Linked DNA regions of Homo sapiens: region 2 is linked to region 1. The links come from fine-mapping of genetic effects on gene expression. Tissue or cell type: whole blood. Region 1 holds a variant in brackets; the other region holds the start of a gene. All regions are shown on one strand. Distances are between the middles of the regions.

Evidence for each region. PIP is the estimated chance that this variant, and not a neighbour inherited with it, causes the effect.
Region 2: it holds the start of LARS1, and the variant in region 1 is fine-mapped to the expression of LARS1 in whole blood (TOPMed, PIP 0.96).

Annotation. Positions count from the first base shown.
Region 1 is chr5:145,898,274-145,901,039 of GRCh38, forward strand. It overlaps a transcript of GRXCR2 not described here. Among named protein-coding and RNA genes, the nearest start is that of GRXCR2, 27 kb to the left of the region's middle. The variant T/C (reference allele first, on the strand shown) is at 1,138.
Region 2 is chr5:146,181,201-146,183,833 of GRCh38, forward strand. It overlaps LARS1 (leucyl-tRNA synthetase 1), which reads right to left and starts at 1,450. Exons shown (of 32, transcript NM_020117.11): 1 at 1,288-1,450. The coding sequence starts at 1,293. RefSeq lists enhancers at 974-1,133, 2,042-2,633.

The DNA of each region.
Region 1 (2,766 bases):
TTGAATCAGTAATTAAAAAAAAAAAAGCCTACCAACCAAGAAAAGCCCTGGACCAGATGGATTCACAGCCAAATCTACCAAATGTTCAAGGAAAAGCTGGCACCACATCAATTCTACTGAAACTATTTCAAAACATCAAGTAGAAGGGACTCTTCCCTAATGCATTCTACAAAGCCAGCATCACCCTGATACAAAAACCTGACAGACAAAATAAAACTATAGGCCAATATCCCTGATGAATATACATACAAAAATCCTTTAAAAAATACTAGCAAACTAAATTCATCAACATGTTAAAAAGTTAATCCACCATGATCAAATAGGCTTCATTCCTGGGATGCAAGGTTGGTTCAACATACACAAGTAATAAATGTAATTCACCACATAAAAAATTAAAAACAAAAACCATATTATCTCAATAGACAGGAAGGACAATAAAATTCAACATCTTTTCATGGTAAAAACTCTCAAGAAACTAGGCATCATAGGAACATACCTCAAAATAATAAGAGCCATCTATGACAAACTCACAGCCAATATCATACTAAATAGGCAGAAACTGGAAGCATTCCCCTTGAACTTGAAGATGTCCACACTCACAACTCCTATTCAACACAGTACTGGAAGTCCTAGCCAGAGAAATCAGACGAAAGAAAGAGATAAAAGGCATCGAAATAGGAAGACAGAAAGTCAAATTATCTCTTTTTGTGGACAATACAATTCTAGACCTTGAAAATCCTAAAGACACCACCAAAAGGCTCTTGCAACTGACTTCAGCAAAGTTTCAGGATACAAAATCAATGTACAAAAGTCAGTACTATGCATTTCTATGCACCAGTAATGTTCATGCTGAGAGCCAAATTAAGAACACAATCCCATTTACAATAGCCACACAAAAAATAAAACACCTAGGAATACATCTAACCTAGGAGGTAAAAGACCTCTACAAAAAGAACTAAAAACACTGCCAAGAGAAATCATAAATGACACAAACAAGTGTAAAAACATTCCATACTCATGGATTGAAAAAATCAATATCACTAAAACAACCTTATTGCCCAAAGCAATCTACAGATTCAACACTATTTATAACAAACTACCAACATAATTTTTCACAGAATTGGAAAAAAACTATTC[T/C]AAAATTCATATGGAATAAAAAAAGAGCTCAAATAGCCAAAGCAATTCTAAGCAAAAAGAACAAAGCCAGAGGCATCACATCACCTGACTTCAAACTATACTATAAGGCTGCAGTAACCAAAACAGTATGGTACTGATACAAAAACAGATACATAAACCTATGGAACAAAATAAAGAGCCCAGAAATAAAGCAGCACGTCTACAGCCATCTAATAATCTTCAACAAAGTTGACAAAAATAAGCAACATGAAAAAGACTCCCTATTCAATAAATAGTGCTGGGAGAGCTTGCTAGCCATGTGCAGAAGAATGAAATTGGACCTTTACCTTTTACCATATACAAAAATTAACTCAAGATGAAGACTTAAATGTAAAACCTCAAACTATAAGAATCCTAGAAGAACACCTAGGAAACACCATTCTGGACATGGGCCTTGGGAAAGAATTTATGACTAAATCCTCAAAAGCAATTGCAACAAAAACAAAAACTGATAAATGGGACCTAATTAAATTAAACAGCTCTGAACAGCCAAAGAACCTATCAATAGAGTAAACAGACAGCCCCACAGAATGGGAGGAAATATTCACAAACTCTGCATCCGACAAAGTTTTAACAACCAGAATCTATAAGAAACTTAAACAATGGAGCAAGCAAAAAACAACCCCATTAAAAATGGGCAACAGATATTGATATGGTTTGGGTTTGTGTCCCTGCCCTAATCTCATGTTGAATTGTAATCCCCAATGTTGGAGGAGGGGGTCTGGTGGGAGGTGATTGGATCATGGGGGCGGATTTCCCTCTTGCTGTTCTCCTGATAGTGAGTTCTTACGAGATCTGGTTGATTAAAAGTGTGTAGCACTTCCCCCTTCACTCTCTTCCTCCTGTTCTGGCCATGTAAGATGTGCCTGCTTCCTCTTTGCCTTCCACCATGATTGTAAGTTTCCTGAGGTCTCCCCAGTCATGCTTTCTGTACAGCCTGAGGAACTGTGAGCCAATTAAACCTCTTTTCTTTATAAATTACCCAATCTCAGGTAGTTCTTTACAGCAATGTGAAAACAGACTAATACAGATACAAACAGACACTTCCCAAAAGAAGACATACAAGCAGCAAGCAAACATGTGAAAAAATGCTCATTCTCACTAATCATGAGAGAAATGCAAATCAAAACCACAGTGAGATGCCATCTCACACCAGTCAGAATGGCAATTATTAAAAAGTCAAATAACAACAGATATTGGCAAGGCTGCAGAGAAAAGGGAATGCTTATACACTGTTGGTGGGAATGTAAATGAGTTCAGCCACTGTGGAAAGCAGTTTGGAGATTTCTCAAAGAACTTAAATCAGAGCTGCCATTGGACCTGGCAATCCCATCACTGGGTATATATCTAAAAGAAAACAAATCATTCTACCAAAAGACACATGCACTTCATCACACTCAATGCAGGGCTATTCACAATAACAAAGTCATGGATTCAACCTAGGTGCCCATCAGTGGTGGATTGTATTTTTTAAAGGTGGTACATATATACTGTGGAACACTATGCAGCCATAAAAAAGAACCAAAGCATGTCCTTTGCAGCAATATGGATGCAGCTGGTGGCCATTATCCTAAGCAAATTAACACAGAA
Region 2 (2,633 bases), 280 kb after region 1:
AATTTAACTGGGCATGGTGGCGCGCGCCTGTAGTCCCAGCTACTCGGGAAGTTGAGGCAGGGGAACCGCTTGAACCTGGGAGGAGGAGGTTGCAGTGAGCCGAGATCGCGCCGCTGCACTCCAGCCTGGCGACAGGGCAAGGCTCCGTCTCAAGAAAAAAACAAACAAACAAACAAAAAACAAAAAAAAATAAAACCAGGCGGGATGGCTCATGCCTGTAGTCCCAGCACTTTCGGAGGCTGAGACAGAAGGATCGCTTGACCCCAGGAGTTCGAAACCCTGTCTCTACTAAAAATACAAAAAATTAGCAGGGTGTAATGGAGCACGCTTGCAGTACCAGCTGTGGGGAGGCTGAGGTGTGAGGATCGCTTGAGCCCTAAGGTCCAGGCTGCAGTGAGCCATGATCACGCCACTGCATTCCAGTCTGGGTCACAGAGTGAGAACATCTCCCAAATTTAAAAAAATTTTTAAAAATTGCAACTGTACTACCCCACCGTACACTCCCTAGCACCCCTTCCTGCTCTATTTTTTCCCCACAGCATTTATCAGCACCTGACACAATATTTTACAATGTATTTTACCCACACACATAAACACTATGAAAAGAGAGATTTTTGTCTGTTTTACGGAGAGGCGCTCAATTTTTTCTTTTTTTTTTTTTTTTTTTTTTTTTTTTTTTGCTGTAAGTAGGAATCAACTTACATACTCCTCTCTCCACCTCGGCTTTATTTGTTTGTTTATTTATTTATTTTATTTTTAAGACGGAGTCTCACTCTGTCGCCCAGGCTGGAGTGCAGTGGCGCGATCCTGGCTCACAGCAGCCTCCCTCTCCCGGGTTCAAGCAATTCTCCTGCCTCAGCCTCCCGAGTAGCTGGGTTAACAGGCGCGCACCACTACGCCCGGCTAATTTATGTATTTTTGGTAGAAACGGGGTCTCACCATGTTGGCCAGGGTGGTCTCGAACTCCTGACCTCAAATGATCCACCCGCCTCGGCCTCCCAAAGTGCTGGGATTACAGCCGTGGGCCACCGTGCCCGGCTCTCCACCTCGATTTTAGAAACTCCAGAGAAATAACAAATATGATATCCAAGTACTCCGTAAAGTTAACAGACATCAGTTCGTGGTTCATAAACTAGCAAGAAAAAGCAAAGTCTCTACGAAAGGCACGCCTTAAGCGTGGCTCTCTTTTAGAAAAGGACTTTCCCTTCAGGACAGCACATGGAGAGCCCCTAGAGACTGGCCAGTCCGGCTCCAGGGCCCCTGCGGATTCTTCTCGCTCAAACTCACCGCCATTGCACCGCCCAGCCGACTGTGCAAATCCACGACAATGACCCTGGCGACCTCCACAAAGGAGTGGTTACCTTTCCCCTCCCTCTCGGGGATGCCAGGCCTCCCACGAAACTAAAGCACACGCTTCACACCTGCTGAGGCAATCATCCGGCTCCTTACTAACTACAGCCAAGGCATCTCACAGCCCGCCGGGAATTGTAGTTCCCAGACCACCCGAGCAGACACCCAGCAGGCGCTAACTGACTACAATTCCCAGAGAAAAACGGGTTATCGGAAGTCTACCCGATAGGCCCACTCAGAGGGGAACCGGCAGTGACGTCACTGGCATGTTGAACTACAAAGTCCATGATGCAGTGCGGGATCGCAGAATGCCGCGAGTGCGCCCTGGTTAGGTTGGAGTCCCTTGGCCATCAACCTTTTCACCCGGTAGAGCTGGTTGCCTGTCGGGATGCCAGGATACGCAGTTAATTACTATACGGTGACTGAGGTGCTACTTATGGCTTGCCACTATGCACAGATATTTTTTACTGTCAGTGGCATTCAACAGCCCAGCATTTAGACATTGTATAACCGCGTATTGACAATCTCCTTTTTTTTTTTTGAGACGCAGTATCGCTCTGTCGCCCAGGCTGGAGTGCAGTGGCGCGATCTTGGCTCAGTGCAACCTCGGCCTGCCGGATTCAAGCAATTCTCCTGCCTCAGGCTCCCGAGGAGCTGGGACTATGGGCGCGCGCCACCACACCGACTAATTTTTTGTATTTTTGGTAGAGACTGGGTTTCACCTTGTTAGCCAGGATGATCCCGATTTCCTGACCTCGTGATCTGCCTCCCTCGGCCTCCCAAAGTGCTAGGATTACAGGCGTGAGCTACCGTACCTAGCCAACAATCTCCTTTTTTTTTTTTTTTTTTTTTTTTTTTTTTGAGAGGGAGTTTCGTTCTGTCTCCAGGCTGGAGTGCAGTGGCGCGGTTTCGGCTCACTGCAACCTCCGCCTCCCGGGTTCAAGCGATTCTTCTGCCCCAGCCTCCTTAGTAGCTGGGACTACAGGCGCGCGCCACCGCGCCCAGCTAATTTTTGTATTTTCAGTAGAAACGGGGTTTCACCATATTGGCCAGGATGGTCTCGATCTCCTGAACTCGTGATCCGCCCGCCCCAGCCTCCCAAAGTGATGGGATTACAGGCGTGAGCCACCGTGCCCGGCCAACAATCTCCATTTTTAAGCAAGAGACTGAAAGCCTACCTGGTCCCATTGCCTGACTCAGACTATTTAGACCACTACCAAACAGGGCCAGGGGCGGTGGCCATAATCCCATTATTTTGGGATGCCGAGGTGGGCGGATGACCT